Linked DNA regions of Homo sapiens: region 1 is linked to region 2. The links come from fine-mapping of genetic effects on gene expression. A gene starts in region 2. The other region holds a variant in brackets. All regions are shown on one strand. Distances are from middle to middle.

Region 1 (8,941 bases), 220 kb after region 2:
ACTCCTGGGCTCAAGCGATCCTCCCACCTCAGTCTCCCAAAGTGCTGGGATTACAGGTATGAGCCACTGCACCCGACCACAATCTCTTTTTTTAAAAAAGGAGAACAAAGTATGTAATAAAGATGTTTACGGCCGGGCGCAGTGGCTCACGCCTGTAATCCCAGCACTTTGGAAGGCCGAGGAGGGTGGATCACGAGGTCAGGAGTTCGAGACCAGCCTGGCCAATATGATGAAACCCCATCTCTACCAAAAATACAAAAATTAGCTGGGCGTGGTGGTACGCACCTGTAGTCCCAGCTGCTCGGGAGGCTGAGGGAGGAGAATCGCTTGAACCTAGGAGGCAGAGGTTGCAGTGAGCCGAGATTGTGCCACTGCACTCCACCCTGGGTGACAGAGCTAGACTTTGTCTCAAAAAAAAAAAAAAGATGTTTAAAAGCTAGTAGTTGAAAGTCTTTTGGGGAGAGGGACAGGGTCTTATTTAGCTCTGAATACCTCACATCACCTTGCCTGGTATTATTACTATCACAGTAGTCACTCAAATCTGGTAAAATGATTAGTGTCAGTATTAAATCAATGTTAATACTGTCTTTAAATAAATTTGCAAAACTACATCTCCTCACACAAGAAACCCCACTCTAAACTTCCTCGATTGTGAAAAGATGTTTTAATCTACCTCAAGAATTTAATAAAATAATATATGGCAAAATGCCGGGGTAGATTCTGAAGTGCTCGGAGTATATAATATCCCTGTGATCAAAAAGGTGGATCAGTCTCTTCTAAGCTGGTTTAGACTCAGCTGTGCTTCATTTTCCTTACTATGAGAAAAAATTCTAACAGGTTTGCATCCCCTCTCTGGCCTTGGTTCGCTCTGAGGAGGGTGAAATAACAAACTCTAAAGTTCCTTCTAGCTCCAGACACTGACCTGTAAACCTTTTAAAAGGATCAAGATTGCACTCCTCAGCATGAACGTTAGACTACTTCCTCACCTACTCCATTTCCCCAGGACCCCATGTTTCCTCTCAGGAATGGTAGCACGTAATTAATGAGTTAAGTTCTTTAAAAGACCTATTTTCTACTCATTTTACACACAGACTTAAGTTGAATTTACTCATCTAAATTAGATCTTCTGAATAATCCAAATAATTATTGTAAAATTTTACACGCCTCAAAGGACCAAAAAAAAAAAAAAAAAAAAAAAGTCAAAACAGCCAACTGTGCGCTGGGCATGGTGGGTCACACCTATAATCTCAGCACTTTAGCAGGCTGAGGTGGGAGGATCGCTTGAGGCCAGGAGTTCAAGACCAGCCTGGGCAACACGGCAAGACCTCCATCTCTAAAAAACATTTTTTTTTTTAATTAGCCAGGGTGGTGCACACCTGTAGTTCCAGCCACTAGGAAGGCTGAAGTGGGAAGATCATTTGAGCCCAGGAGTTTGAGGCTGTAGTGAACGATGAGCACGCCACCGCACTCCAGCCTAGGCAACAGGATGAGATCCTGTCTCTAAAAACAAAAACAAAAACATGTTTAATAGCCAACTGTCAAAAATATGTTTGTAACTACTAACTCTAAAAAGTAAATTTTGGTTTTCCAATTAAGGAAAATGTATTTCCTATATTTTAAATCAGAAAATAGTCATAAAAAGTCACTTATACTCAGAAATAACAACAAATAAATGCCAACTCATTCATGGAAAAAAATGTTTAAGTTACAATTAAAAGAGAGTAGAAACATCTGCAACACAATGCAAATGTATCTACAAGATACTACCACATGAAAATGAAATTTTACCCAAAAAGCGTTAAAACACTCAAATTATGCAGGTAAGGGCAATTTACGTATTTCACATTTATCTTGTTTAAAATAATTTTTTGGTGTGGTTTTAAAAACCTTGCCTCCTTTTACCCTTCAGGGAATAGCGTCCCACTAAAAGAGAACACTATTGTAATGATACTTCCAGGCAAGAAACCTGTCTTTATGATGTAAAACAGGGCTACCAGATCCAGATAAGGTCTGCCATTAGGATGCTTCAGAAGTCATAACATTTCAAAGAAAAAAAAATTTTTAAGTAATTCCTACATTAATAATTGCTAGTTAGTGAATTTAGTTTTTAAGCACATCGTATTTTTATATAAATATAAATTTTTATAACTTAAAATTCTAAACTTAATTTCCTGAGACAAAATTGGTCCTTTCACTCTGATTATCAATGTCAAGACAGCAGCTTCTTATTTGACAGTCAGTATTTAACTATATTTTACATCTACTGAGTGTTTCAGGGCCTTAAAGTTCATTATGATTATTATATTATTAATTACAACGTGCACTGTAACATTCCCTTTTTAAAGAGGTGCAAATAGAAGTTAAATAACTTATCCAAGGTCACCCAAACAAGTCAGTGACAAAGTTGGGAGTAGGAGTAAAACTTCAGCCCCTAGACTGAAGACTACTTCGAGCTTTTGCAATTCCAAACGAGGAAAAAAAAAAGGTCAAGCGATTTACCCTTAATAACTTCCAACAGCATACCCTAAATACAGTGGTACACTTATTATCATAAAGACTAAGAAAAAAAGATTCACCCTGAATCAAAGAAACAACTTTGCTACATTTAGATACCACTGTCATTTCCCTAGCTCTTGTAACAAGCGAAAATCCTGTACTGGATCTGGCTATATTAAATCCTGAAGAATGTTCACTCTTCAATATGAACAATTTATTTTCATGCTAACATGCATTTACGACTTAATCTTTTATCACCTTGTCCTATTTGGAGGTGCTGTGGGATGCATTAATTTCCTCACTCTTCCATGACATCAAGTCAAAGACTACAATCTCAAAAATAAGCAATTCTCAGTGAAAACATAGTTACATAGCCAATGAAAGAAAAACTCTAATAAATGGCTGCTTTTAAAGAGATACTTTTAAAGGATGCTTACATGTTTCACAGAATTACCGGTAACTCGCCCGCCAAGAAGGATGGTCCCTTTAAAGCAGCTTTTAAAGCATATCACTCCCTGTTTGGGACACAGTCTGACTTGTTGGACAAGATTAATCTGGGCACTCTCACACAACCCCTCTGAACCAGCTTAGTTCACTGGAAACATCATTTCAACTGTAGTACTCAGCCCTTCGCATACTACAAGGGACAAGATGACTCTCCTTAACAATCTTTCAGAAGGTCCCCACGGCGGAGACAGTGACAGCCGTCCTCCCGCGGATGTTTTTGGAAATAGAAATGTTAACACCAGGAGAGGCTCCTAGGAAGTGTCAGTGCGGCAGCAGGTGGAGTAGCCCTGCGTGCCGAGCAGGTTCTTTCTGACCTAGTCTCAATGCTCCGCTTCCCGGCCCCGGTTCCGCCTTACAGAGATCTTGTTAAGCCGTCTTGCGTCCCTGTTCTCTAACCCAGGGCGAGACTTCCAACCCTCCAGGGAGGCGAGGCAATCGAAGCAGACAAGACGGCCACCTCACCTCTTCCGGGGACTCGCAGGCCCGCTCCCTGGCCATGTCAGAGCCTGATGGACCAGGCTGGAGGGGACGCAGCCGGCTCCCCCGGGAGCCTCCCAGCCAGAACCCCCGCGCCCCACGGTCCCTTTCCACTGCCCCCACCCCTTCGAAACGCCACCGCCACCACCCTCCTTACTCCTGAATCCCCTCTCCTCAGGAGTACCCCAGTGGAGTTACCGGCCCACTCAAAAGTAAGAGCGACGGCCACCCCTCTCGGTCACCCTGGCCCCACTGTCACCGCCCTGCTCCCGGCCTCTGCCTACGCCGCTGGCTGGCTCCGGTGACGCCCGGGTCGGTACCTTGCGGACCCCCTTGTAGATATAGAAGTACAGCTCCCGGCCCACATTGAAGCAGAGGCGGTCGCCGTTGCCAGACTGGTCGTTGAGGTTTACGAAGGAGACGCGGACAGGGTTGGATCCCTGCGAGTTGAAGGGCACCCGGTTGGGCCGGCTGTACTCCGAGTGCGGCAGCAGCTTGTACAGACCTTCCCGGGTGGTGAATTGGGTCTTAATCTCGTTCATCTCCTTCCCTCCTCCCTCCGTCGCCATCTTGGAAAGCAGCGTTCATCCTGCCCTAAGTGCCCGGATCACGCCCACCGCGCAGGCGCTGTTCCTGGTGCTCCCTCTTCCCCCACCCCCTGCCTCTTCCTTCTCGCCCCTCCCACCCGCGGGCCAGCCCTGCGAGGGCGGGCCAAAGGGAAGGGGTGGGCTTGTTTACGGCCCGACTGCGCAGGCGTGCTCACCTGGCGTGCTCCACCCGACTGGGCGTCCGCAGGCTCCTCCCCCGGGTGTGGCCTCCGGGCGGCATGGCTGCTTCCCAGGTGATGCCGGCTTCAGCTAGTGGGGTCTAGTTGACCGTTCCGCAGCCGCCAGGGCCAGCGGAAAGCCGGTCAGGGGGAACCGCGGCGGGGCTGGTGTCATGAGCCTGAGGTGAACTTGAGGGTGCCTCCTCAGCGGTCTCCCGCCCTGCCCTGAGGGGCGCCGGGACCCCAAAGAGCGGAGGAAGAGCGCCACCCCGACGGCCACCGCTTCGGAGCCAGCACGCGGGGTACCCTACGGGGAGCGCGGATGCCCCCGTGTTCGGGCGGGGACGGCTCCACCCCTCCTGGGCCCTCCCTTCGGGACAGGGACTGTCCCGCCCAGAGTGCTGAATACCCGCGCGACCGTCTGGATCCCCGCCCAGGAAGCCCCTCTGAAGCCTCCTCGCCGCCGTTTCTGAGAAGGTACCAAGGGACTCAAGATTTACGCTTCACTATGTTTTATTTCAGGCGGGGTAGGGGGAGAGAAGAATGTGGTACAGCATAGGTGTTCTCAAGCCAGATATCCTAATTCCTGCGTGTGATGAGCACTGGCGGCCTCCGCTTCTTAGCGGAGGTTTGTCCTCTCCAGCTGTTCAGAAACACGGGGCGGGGAAGCGCTTTGGGAACCGGGGACTGAATCTTTTTAGGATTCACTGATCTTGCTCAGTAGGTTACGAAGAGCTCTTAATAAAATTTAAGGTAATTGTTTTTTTTTCCAGAAG[C/T]CTCAGGTGGAGTCTGTGAGATTATTTACTAGTAGATCCATAGGGATAGTTGTATGCATGTAATGTACAGGGTCTAGATTTATAAGGACGGGCACACGTGTCAAAGTAAGATTCAACAATCACTATTTTATACCTGGGTTTCTTGGCATGTTACACCAGAATAAGAAAGCTTCTAAAGTGACAGAAACATTCTAATAGAATTCCAGGGAGGGGGGAAGCCAACATTTGTAACACCAAGAATGATCTATTCCTGGAAGTTCAGATTATATCTGGAGGGGCACAAAAGAAGTGAATGGAGAGAATTTCTAAAGTAGGAGGAGTGTAAATCATAAACATCTTCCGTATTAAAAAGCAAGTAGATACCAATAGAAACTGTGCCAATGATGTAGTAATACATTTGATAATAACATCTTTAGCCTTTGTAGTGTTGGAAAAAAAAAAGAAAAAAAAGCACTGAAGTACTTCTTAATTAATAGAGCCTGAAAAATACTTAAAATTTTTTCTTAGAATTGTTTTGATGTTATCCGACTTTCCCTAATCTTAAAACACCAGGGTATGTTCTGTCGTTACCATGGCTATATCCCAAACTCCATAACTGTGTTATTTTACATTGAAAACACGTATTTTACAATAATCAACTTGAAGGATAGTGGCATCTTGAATCATCTAAAAATAATTTATCTGTGTTTCCTAATTATCAAGAGGAAAAAAAGTATAATTTTTGGGGGGGGAAAAAAACCCAGCGAGCAAAAGTTAAAACAAAATTTTGTATTATTCTTCAATTAACCATAACATTGTATTTCCCATAATACCTATATAATTCAAGCATTCTATCAAGATTTTACCCTATATAAATTCAACATTTTATTATAATCACAGTAATAAACTGTTCACTTTGTCTCATGCATAGCCTTTGGTTTAGTTTTGTTTTTTTTTTCTTAGATGGAGTCTCGCTGTCGCCATGCTGGAGTGCAGTGGTGCAATCTTGGCTCACTGCAACCTCTGCCTCCCAGGTTCAAGCGATTCTCCTGCTTCAGCCTCCCGAGTAGCTGGGACTACAGATGTGCACCACCACGCCCAGCTAATTTTTGTATTTTTAGTAGAGATGGGGTTTCACCATGTTGGCCAGGATGGTCTTGATCTCTTGACCTGCTGATCCACCCACCTTGGCCTCCCAAAGTGCTGGTATTACAGGCATGAGCCACAGTGCCCAGTCCCATGCATAGCCTTTGAATAGTCTCTATTTTTATTCTTTTTATCTCATAACTTTTCCTCCATATTCAAAGATTCAATAAGCAACACCCAAATCTAAATAACTAGGCCTGAATGGCTGGGCGTGTTGGCTCACACCTGTAATCCCATCACTTTGGGAGGCCGAGGCGGGCAGATCACGAGGTCAGGAGTTTGAGACCGCCTGGCCAACATGGTGAAATCCCATCTCTACTAAAAGTACAAAAATTAGCCAGGCGTGGTGACACATGCCTGTAATCCCAGCTGCTCGGGAGGCTGAGGCAAGAGAATTGCTTGAACCCGGGAGGTGGAGGTTGCAATGAGCCGAGATGGCACCACTGCACTCCAGCCTGGGCAACAGAGCGAGACTCCATCTCAGGAAATAAATAAATAAATAGATAAATAAATAAATGGGCCTGACCTAATTTTATTTCTGATTTTCAATTTCAAACCGGGAATTTAAAAAAAAATTTTTTTTTTGAGATGGAGTCTCACTCTGTTGCCCAGGCTGGAGTGCAGTGGCACAGTCTCAGCTCTCCGCAGGCTGGAGTGCAGTGGCACAGTCTCAGCTCTCCGCCTCCCAAGTTCAAGCAATTCTCCTGCCCCAGTCTCCCGAATAGCTGGGATTACAGGCGCATGCCACCACACCCAGCTAATTTTTGTATTTTTAGTAGAGACGGGGTTTCACCACGTTGGCCAGGCTGGTCTCGAACTCCTGACCTCAGGTGATCCACCCACCTCAGCTTCCCAGAGTGCTAGGATTACAGGCGTGAGCCACCGCGCCCGGCCTCAAACCAGGTATTTCTTTTTTTTTTGTTTCCTTTTTTTTTTTTAAGAGAAGTCTCGCTCTTGTCCCCCAGGCTTGAGTGCAATGGCTCAATCTCGACTCACTGCAACCTCTGCCTCCCGGATTCAAACGATTCTCCTGCCTCTGCCTCCCAAATAGCTGGGATTAAGGCACCTGCCACCACACCTGGCTAATTTTTGTATTTTTTAGTAGAGACAGATTTTAACCATGTTGGCCAGGCTGGTCTTGAACTCCTGACCTCAGGTGATCCACCAGCCTCGGCCTCCGGAAGTGCTGGGATTATAGGCGTGAGCCACCGCGCCCGGCCCAAACCGGGTATTTCTTTTTTTTTTTTTTTTTTTTTTTGAGACGAGTCTCACTCTGTCGCCCAGGCTGGAGTGCAGTGGCATGATCTCGGCTCACCGTAACCTCTGCCTCCCGGGTTCAAGCGAGTCTTCTGCCTCAGCCTCCCGAGTAGCTGGGACTACAGGCATGTGCCACCAGGCCTGGCCAATTTTTTTGTATTTTTAGCAGAGACGGGGTTTCGCCATGTTGGTCAGGCTGGTCTCGAACTCCTGACCTCGTGATCCGCCCACCTTGCCCTCCCAAAATGCTGGGATTACAAGCGTGAGCCACCGCGCCCGGCCCAAACCGGGTATTTCTAAATAAATTCATCAGTTTCTAAACCTTATGAATTATTTTTTCATTTCAAACTTGAATCATTATGATGGTTTTGTGCATTAATTCCTTCTAAACAACTACCAAAATAATTTTCTAAAAACAGTGCTTTAGACATTACATATTCTTTTGTCCAAAAACTTTCAATTATTTGAAATACCCACACAATTTAAGTCATACTGAGAGGTTACAACGTGCTGGCAGTCCTCAGAGCCCTGGCTTGCTCTCGGCGCCTCCCCTGCCTGGGCTCCCACTTTGGTGGCATTTGAGGAGCCCTTCAGCCCCCCACTGCACTGTGGGAGCCCCTTTCTGGGCTGGCCAAGGCTGGAGCCCACTCCCTCAGCTTGCAGGGAGGTGTGCAGGGAGAGGCGAGAGCGGGAACCGGGGCTGCGTGCGGCTCTTGCGGGCCAGCTGGAGTTCCGGGTGGGCGTGGGCTTGGCGGGCCCCGCACTTGGAGTAGCCAGCCAGCCCTGCTGGCCCCGGGCAATGAGGGACTTAGCACCCGGGCCAGTGGCTGCGGAGGTGTACTGGGTCCCCCAGCAGTGCCGGCCCACCGGCGCTGTGCTCGATTTCTCGCCGGGCCTTAGCTGCCTTCCCGCGGGGCAGGGCTCCGGGACCTGCAGCCCCCATGCCTGAGCCTCCCACCCACTCCATTGGTTCCTGTGCGGCCGGAGCCTCCCCGACGAGCACCACCTCCTGCTCCACGGCGCCCAGTCCCATCGACCACCCAAGGGCTGAGGAATGCGAGCGCACGGCGCAGGACTGGCAGGCAGCTCCACCTGCAGCCCCGGTGCGGGATCCACTAGGTGAAGGCAGCTGGGCTCACACCAATCAGCACCCTGTGTTTAGCTCAAGGTTTGTGAGTGCACCAATCCACACTCTGTATCTAGCTACTCTGGTGGGGCCTTGGAGAACCTTTATGTCTAGCTCAGGGATTGTAAATACACCAGTCGGCACTCTGTATCTAGCTCAAGGTTTGTAAACACACCAATCAGCACCCTGTGTTTAGCTCAAGGTTTGTGAGTGCACCAATCCACACTCTGTATCTAGCTGCTCTGGTGGGGCCTTGGAGAACTTTTATGTCTAGCTCAGGGATTGTAAATACACCAATCGGCACTCTGTATCTAGCTCAAGGTTTGTAAACACACCAATCAGCACCCTGTGTTTAGCTCAAGGTTTGTGAATGCACCAGTCGACACTCTGTATCTAGCTGCTCTGGTGGGG
Region 2 (8,941 bases):
AGACCAGTCTGGCCAACATGGCGAAACCCATCTCTACTAAAAAATACAAAAATTAGCCAGGTGTGGTGGCGCACACCTGTAATCCCAGCTACTTGGGAGGCTGAGGCAGGAGAATCACTTGAACCTGGGAGGTGGAGGCTGCAGTGAACCAAGATCGTGCCACTGCACTCCAGCCTGGGTGACAGAGTGATATTTCATCTCAAAAATAAATAAATAAATAAAAATATAATGAATAATGCTTCCTTAGTCATGACTATTTCAGTTAAAAAAATACAAAACACCACCCTATGGCATCCTTCAAGTTACGATGCTTCCTTTCCCCACTAGCCCTGTCAATCTCATAACCCTGGAAGGTGGCAGCTAGCCTTCACTGCTGACTACTAACACCCAACTGCCACCCAGATGGATGATTTCTCAAACTGGAGCTAGGACTAATATAGAGTCTAAGTCATCCACTTCGCTGTACAATAACCATGTTATCAGAGTGCTCTGGGTACACTAATGGTTTCAGGATTCTCTCCAAAATCCCTAGGAAGCAACAATTTGTATCCCTATTGTAGAATCTATGTTTGAAATCTGGCTACGACATCTATTAATTATTTGAGTATTAAATTATTAAGGAGGAACGTAATGAGACTGAGGCAGTCATTTATCTTCCAGACAAAATTTTGTCACTTCCTTGCTCCCATCCCCATTGGCTACCCAATGGTCACAAGCTAAAGCCTAACACAAGCATGGAAATTAGACACTATGACAAAACAGTCTATATCTAACTTCATCTCAGGCCACTCTTCCATCCACACACTGTGCACTCCCTACCCTTTAGCAATCACCCCTCTACACGCTTCTTCTCTCAGCCCTGGGCAACCACTGATCTCCTCTCTGTCTACAGTTCGCCTATTCTGGAGATTTCATCAAAATTGAATCATATAATATGTGGTATTTTGTGTCTGGTTGCTTTCACTTAGCCTAATGTTCTCAAGGTTCCTCCATGTTGTAGCACAAATCAGTACTTCGTTCCTTTTTATTGCTGAACAGCCTTCCATTGTGTAGACAGGCCACGTTTTGTTTGTGCATCCATCAGCTTTCCATCACAGTCCCTGCACACACCATAACCTGTATGTCTCTGCAGAACAAAGTCCCTTTCCACTCTTCCCTATTCCCCCACATGTGCCCTGTAAGAACTAGTCCTCCGCCACCAGGAAGCCTTCATAAATTCCCTCAGATACTTGGTTGGTCTTTCTCTGCTTTCACAGAACTCCATGATGGCAGTTATCGCACAGCACCATCATTATCTGTTTTCTCTCCCCTTCAATGGACTCTTTCTCATCTTCACCTATGTTCTTCTAGTCTGTATACTTTGTGGTGCTTTAAAAGACCAATAAAGAGTATGGTACAATCAATGCTCAATACACGTTTGTTGAATGAATCTCTCTCTCAAAGCACTGTGCTAGATTCACCCAAGTATGACAGCCCTAAATATAAAATAGTGGCAAAAAGTCAATAGAACTCTTATGTCCAGGTCCAAAGAATACATTCATTTTAAATTGAACATGCATCTTGAGTAACAGCTCCCTTCTACCTTAGCAATTCGCAAAGCCATCAACTACTCCCTTCTAATTTTACTGATCTCTCTGTGCATTACTGAATCTAGAAATCTCTTCGTGCTTGACACCAAAGCTTTTCATTATAACCCTTTCCTGATCTATTCCTCATCTTCCCAAGTTCAATCAACTGCCTCTGCCTGATGCCTGTTTCCTTCCTTTTCTTCCCACTAAGTTCCAGTAGCCATTTTTTTCAACTCCTACAGCGGCTAATATGAAATGAAATTCTCCCCAAACTTAAGTGTAACTTCTTTAAGAAAAAATTGGAAAAAAAAATCCAGTAGATGCCAGTCTTCTATTGAAAAAGACACGTGGGTATAATATAGCTGATGCCTAACAAAAGCTACTTCCTAGTCACTCCTTCAGAAGAGGGTTATCCTCATTCCATCTTCCCCACCACTGGTTTTCCAAGGCAGTCCTGAAAATTCAATTTGTGTGTCCCCTACACCTGCACTTAGTTCTCCCTTTTAAAGTTCATGGGCCAGACCATGATCTTTCTGAGGCAGTGACCTCAGGAAGGGTCTGTCTGGTTCACCACAGCATCCCTAGAGCCAGCCTGGCACAGTGCTGGCACACGATGGCCAAATAACCACCAATATGGGACGTAAGTCAGGTTAACAACAACAACAACAAAAATAAGGTCAGAGGTTTATCAAGGTACATTATAGCTGGGTGTGAGAAAACACAAAGTCCTGCAGCCTAAAAGACCAGGAATCGCTGGTGATCACAAGGAGCTACAGTGGCTTCATTCCCAGATTCTACCTATGCCTGGGATTTGCGTTTTGAGATTTCCCAGAACTCTGTCTACAAGACCTTGGCTGCAAGGAGGCAGTCCACAAGTGCAACTGGTCACTCCAATAGATGAGAAAAGGATGCACCCAGGCTGGTATCCCACATTCTGCCAACACATGGAACATAAGTCACAGAACAGAATAAAATTCCTGAATCCCAATAAGAGAGGAAGAAAAAAGTGCAGGGAAGAGAAATGGAGGTAGAGAAGGAGAAACTAAAGTCATGAGAAGTCAGAGACATATCAGAAGGGACTAGAGGGCGAGAACGCAGGCTAGCACAGATGACAGCAGGGGCTCCCCTTTACTGAAATGTACAGCGGCAGGCACCGTGCTTAACTTTACATGCACTGACCCATTTAATCCTCTTACCAAGCCAGAGGTAGAAACTATTCTCATCTCCATTCCACTGGTGATGAAACTGGAGCGGAGTGAGGTAGGGCACTTGCCCCAGCACAGAGCTAGGAAGGGGCCGCTGGGACCTGCCCGGCTCTGACTCCAGGACACCCCATCCTTTAACACTTACTACCTATTCTGCCTCCCATGCCTTCAAATAGGATTGGGAAAGGAGTCATTCACTTATCCACTCATCGAACACTGAACACCAACTGGATGAGTGTCAAGGCCTGGGGCCAGGCGCCGGTGGGCGGATGTAAGGGACGCGGGCTGCGAGTGGGGGACAGAACACGACGTCAATCTTAAGGCGAAGGAGCAGAGCCCGCGGCCAGACCGGCAGCCGGGATGCAGGGTGGGGCCGGGGGCCGAGGGCGCGGGACGCGCAGCGGAGGCCTGAGGAGGGGCGGGCGGCCCCTGTTCCCCGCTGCGGACCGCCGGATTCTGCGGGCGGCGAGCCAGGCGCTCCGTGTGTTGTGGCATTTAGTGTCCGCCACTCCGCGCGGGCGAGACCGCGGGCGAGGGAGACGGGGCGGACGGGCATGGAGACCCTGCGGGGCTGAGGCAAGGGAAGAGTGGCCCGGGGGAGGCCGAGGAGGGGCTCGGGGCCAGGCGTCGGGGGCGTCGGGGGCGTCGGGGCCGCTTGCGGCGTCGCCGGACTCACCTCCCGCGGCAGCCCCTCCGGACTCGTCGGCCCCGCCGGGCCGGAGGAGGCGGGATGGACTCCGGGCCGCGGGGGCTGCCGGGAGCCTGTTCCCTGGGCAACGGGGCCGGCACCGGGGCCAGCACCGAAGAGCAGCAGCTGGCTCCGCCGGGGGCTAGAGCGGCAGAGCCACAAGTGGCAGCGGGCGGGGCGGACGTGACGCAAATGCGTTTCCGGTGGGGTGGGCGGGGCTTCGCGTCTCCTTCTACGGATATCTGTGGACCTTATGGAAGGTGCGTGAGATCGGTTCCTTTCCCGGGGTGGGGTGGCTGTGAATGTTACTGCTTAGGCCGCAGGTTGGACCAGAAGCTCAGGAGCTCCCCGGATTACATGAGGTTAAATGGAGGTCCTCTGTCTTACCCCAGCCTAGCCCGCAGGCCCCTCGCAGCCTCTGCGAGCTGCTCGGGAGACAGTTTTGCCGAGCCTCCGTTTTTTCACATGTGCAGTGACAGATGAACGGGACGATATACGCAAATGAGTGTCAGCAGATCCGACATCCAAATTGTAATTATTGTCACTATAAATTAGTACTAACAGAGTTCACTGGGTACCAAGCCTTGCATGCTCATCTCGTCCAGAAACTCCTCTCTGAACTGCCCTCAGTCAGAACATTCTGCTTGTAATGAAAGCTGGCTTTCGCCTAGTGCTCAGTTTGCTGAGTACTGCTCCAAGCACTTTAAGTGGATCATCTCATTTGAACCTCACAGTGGTCCCATGAAGTAATGTCAACCCCATTTTGCAGATGGGGAATCGAGGCTCAGAGGGGATAAGTAACTTAGCCACTGTGCCCTCACCCTACCCTGTCCTGTGACGCTGATGACTGGTCTGTCTTTACCAGCCCTTGAGTTTCTTGAAGTCAGTTATGTTTTTGGTTCCTAAATATGTGCCCCGTATGAGTCAGGCTGACCATGAATCAGATGTGATCCTGCCCTCAGAATCTCCTGTTGGGGGGAAAACCCTTAGACAATTATAGAACAGGTGGTAAGAGCTATTCCTCCATTTACCTCATTTTATGCAAAGCCTCCTATGTGTGGAAGGTTTGAAAGAGAACGAGACATAGTTCCTACCCTAGTCGAATTTCCAGTTTAGCAGGGAATATAGACATTAAACAAGCAAATACACTCCACTGGTGAATATCATGATAGCAGAATTATAGGGTGTACCACATATCTAGTGGTGAGTCGTAACCCAACCTGGGGGATCCAGGAATACTTCTCTGTGGAAATGACTTTCTAAAAACCTAAATCAGATAATTTCACTGCCCTATCCAGAGCTCATTGCTCACTCCCCATTGTATTAGGTTGGTGCAAAAGTAATGGCAATTTTGGCTGTTAAAAGTAATGGCAAAATCTGTTACTTTTGCACCAAGCTAATACTTAGAAGTCCAAACTTCATTTTTTTATTTTGTTTTGTTTTGTTTTGTTTTGTTTTGTTTTTGAGACGGAGTCTCGCTCTGTCACCCAGGCTGGAGTGCAGTGGCGCGATCTGGGCTCACTGCAAGTTCCGCCTCCCGGGTTCACGCCATTCTCCTGCCTCAGCCTCCTGAGTAGCTGGGACTACAGGCGCCCGCCACCACGCCCGGCTGATTTTTTGTATTTTTTTAGTAGAGATGAGGTTTCACTGTGTTAGCCAGGATGGTCTCGATCTCCTGACCTCGTGATCCGCCCGCCTTGGCCTCCTGAAGTGCTGGGATTACAGGCGTGAGCCACTGCCCTCGGTCCAACTTCTTATCTTGGCCTATTAGGTTCTAGTTGTCTGATCACCTACTCACGCACTAGTCCTTTTCTGTCTATTTCATTCCAGCACACTGGTTTTTTTGTTTGCTTGTTTGTTTTGTTTTGTTTTCTGTTTTTTGAACTCACCAACCTCATTATCATAATTAGGGCACATACTACTGACCTACCCTATTTCTGGCTTTTCATCATTCAAATCTCAGCCTAAACGACACCTTCTCAGGGGATCACACTAACACAAGACCCTGTTTTATTTTCCACACACACTTAATCATGATCTGAACTGATCGTGGTCATTTGTTTATTATCTGCCTCCCCTTTGGAAAGTAAGTTCCATGAAAACGGTCCTGGTCCGTCTCATTCAATCACTTCATTCCCCCATGCCTGGCGTATTGTAGGCAGTAAGCAAATATTTGTTGTTTAAGTAAAGAATGAATGATAAATCAAGATGATATTTTAAAGTGAGGATACTAAGTATGAGGCAGGGGAGTGGGGACACACACAGATAGGAAAAATATTCCAGGTCAAAGTCAGAACTTGTACAGAGCCAGCTCTGATGCACAGAGGGCAAGTGGGAAAGGGTAGAAGCTGAAGTGGTGGGCAGAGCTTGGATAGTAGAGGCCCTTGAGCTAACAGGTGAGATACTGGGTTTTTGCCTTGTGCGAGGCCTCACAGCTTCACATATATTATCTAATCTCAGCAATCCTATGAAATAGATACTATTTTTATTCCCATTTTACAGATGAAAATGTTGAGGCTCTGAAAGGTACATTAAGTTGCCCAAGATCTCACAGCTGGCGAGCTGGGGTTCAGACGCAGGCAGTGTGGTCTTCTGACTTGAGGCATCAAACCATCCAGCTGTTGTGTGTCCTGGATTCCTCAAGAGGACTTTATCCTGTGGGCAGTGAGAAGCCTTTGTGGGGTTCAAAGTAGAGAAGGCAAGAGGGCACAGGAGGGTTCGGGGAGAACAAACAACCTGAGTTGGCTCTTGGTGGTCTGGGGGTTGCTTCCTACAGGCAGTGGGATCCGGGTGCATCTTGGAGGATGGGCATCGTGAGCCTGAGGAAGGAAGGAGCTTTCCTGCAGAGAGAACACGTGTAAAGGCCTGCAGGCACCTCAGCTTTTCAAGAGCTGCCAGTAGTTCATTTTCGCTGGATATTGACGGGGGGCCAAGGTGTGGGTTGATGTACGTGATGATGTGGAGGGGTAGCTAGGTCTGGAAGGATTTTGGACTTCCTCCTGATTACCAAGAAGGGCAGTGGCAGCATCGTGATCAACTCTGCATCTCTGTTGTCTCAGTGTCTTGAAATGATTAGCACTCATGGGCCACGCTACTCTGAGCAAATTTAAAGTATCAGAGTGCCTGAGACTAGATAGTGGAAGTACTCGGGAGTCAGGGCTAGATTATCCTGTAGGGAAGGGAACGTGAGCCATTGAAGAGTTTTAGCAGACAGTCACAACTTTACCTTATTTCCAATCTTTGGAAAACAAAGGGCTTAAGGTAAAAACTTTGTGGAGCCATTAAGCTGGAAGAGGATTCAGCTCTATCTGGTGAATTTTAAAATGTTAAAAATATTCTATATTGTCTTCTTCCAGGAACTTTCACATTCATTCAGACTTTGTAGTTTCCACATTTATTTGTCCAGTTGATACAGCATTTCAGATAGTTTTACTGTTGAAAATTATAAGGACATTTGCCCTCCAACTATGATTGTATATTCCATGATAATAATTTTGTTTCTTTTATACCCTATCAGCAAAGACTCTTGGAACTGTAACGCCCAGAAAACCTGTCTTATCTGTCAGTGCAAGAAAAATTAAGGACAATGCGGCTGATTGGCACAATTTAATCCTGAAGTGGGAAACCCTCAATGATGCAGGTTTTACCACTGCAAATAATATTGCCAACTTGAAAATCAGTTTATTGTAAGTACATATTGGTTTTTCATGCTCTAAGTTTTTCACCCTTAATAACTGGGGAAATAATGTGAATAAATTTTAAAATAAAATATTAAGCAAAAAAAGCAAGTGGTAAGATGATACGTGTAAGTATAAATTGTATTGTACATTTTAAATACAAAATTATATTCCATATATATATATATATATATATATATTTAGTTATTTATTTATTTATTTTTTTGGAGATGAAGTCTCACTCTGTTGCCTAGGCTGGAGTGTGATGGCGCGATCTCAGCTCACTGCAACCTCTACCGCCTGGGTTCAAGCAATTCTCCTACCTCAGCCTCCGGAGTAGCTGGGATTACAGGCGCCCGTCACCACACCCAGATAATTTTTGTATTTTTAGTAGAGACGGGCTTTCACCATGTTAGGCTGGTCTCGAACTCCTGACCTTACGTGATCCACCTGCCTCAGCCTCCCAAAGTGCTGTGTGAGCCACCGTGCCTGGCTATTCTGATTTTTAAAACCACAGATTCTTTGATTCTTTTGTAGTTCATAGGCATAATGATTGGGTTTTCATGCTCATGTATGACCTGTGCCTTCCTCAAACTTTGCTATGATGTTGGCACATTACCTAGCTGATATGGAAAAAACTACCATGAATTCTTTTCATCCATTTTTGGATTTTACGTAAACAAAAAACATATGTTATTGTTTCCTTTATATCTCACTTTCTTTTTCTATTTTTTATTTTTTATTTTTGGAGACGAGTCTCACTCTATCCCCCAGGCTGGAGTGCAATGGCGTGATCTTGGCTCACTCTAACTTCTGCCTGTCAGGTTCAAGTGGTTCTCCTGTCTCAGCCTCCTGAGTAGCTAGAATTACAGATACCTGCCACCATGCCCGGCTAATTTTTGTATGTTTAGTAGAGACAGAGTTTCACCATGTTGGCCAGGCTAGTCTCAAACTCCTGACCTCAAGTGATCTGCCCACCTTGGCCTCCCTAAATGCCGGTATTACAGGCATGAGCCACTGCGCCCAGCCATGTCTCACTGTCTTTCAACATGGAAGCCATGCGTGTAATGTAGAGCCACTATTCTGGTTCTGTTCTTTCTCATTGCTGTTTAATAGTGTTTACCCACATTAGACCTCTCACACTGGTTTATCAACTAAGTTATATAATATTCTCAATCTTTTGTTGTCATTTCAACAGTGTGCACAGTGTCTTTCCCAGGAATAGATTCCATCTCAAGAAACCACCTTCTTTGCTCATCCATAAGAAACAATTCCTTATCTGTTCAAGTTTTCTCATGAGATTGCAGCAATTCAGTTCCATCTTCAGACCCCACTTCCAGTTCTGGTTCTCTTGCTTTTTCCACTGGCAGAGTAGATTTAACATCATTCTTAAGGGCCCTAGGAATTTGAGAATGGTAAATGAGCATTGGATTCAACTTAAAGTCACTAACTGCAATATCCCCTAATAAGAGGGTGAGCCTGTCTCTTGAAGCTTTGAAGCCTGTCATTGACTTCTCTGTAGTTGTGAATGTCTTGGATGGCATGTTCTTCTAATAGAAGGCTGTTTCATCTACACTGAAAATCTGTTGTATCATGTAGCCACCTTCATCACTGATCTTAAGTAGATCTTCTGGATAACTTGCTCCAGCTTCTACATTAGCGCTTGCAGCTTCACCTTGCACTTTTATGTTATGGAGATGGCTTTTGTCCTTAAACCTCATGAACCAAATCCTGCTATCTCAAACTTTTCTTCTGTAACTTCCTCATATCTCTCAGCCTTCACAGAATTGAAGAGAGTTAGGG

Evidence for each region.
Region 1: its variant is fine-mapped to the expression of TECPR2 in whole blood (TOPMed, PIP 0.98).

Annotation. Positions count from the first base shown.
Region 1 is chr14:102,135,032-102,143,972 of GRCh38, reverse strand. WDR20 (WD repeat domain 20) reads right to left here and starts at 4,076. Exons shown (of 3, transcript NM_144574.4): 1 at 3,801-4,076. The coding sequence starts at 4,049. It also overlaps a transcript of HSP90AA1 not described here. RefSeq lists enhancers at 3,821-3,980, 3,991-4,040 and a silencer at 4,641-4,836. The variant C/T (reference allele first, on the strand shown) is at 5,023.
Region 2 is chr14:102,357,625-102,366,565 of GRCh38, reverse strand. TECPR2 (tectonin beta-propeller repeat containing 2) reads right to left here and starts at 3,625. Exons shown (of 20, transcript NM_014844.5): 1 at 3,450-3,625. It overlaps CINP (cyclin dependent kinase 2 interacting protein), which reads left to right and starts at 3,676. Exons shown (of 5, transcript NM_032630.3): 1 at 3,676-3,721; 2 at 6,979-7,147. The coding sequence starts at 3,715. LOC124903427 (small nucleolar RNA U13) reads left to right here and starts at 7,664; the gene lies at 7,664-7,767. RefSeq lists silencers at 3,092-3,181, 3,222-3,631.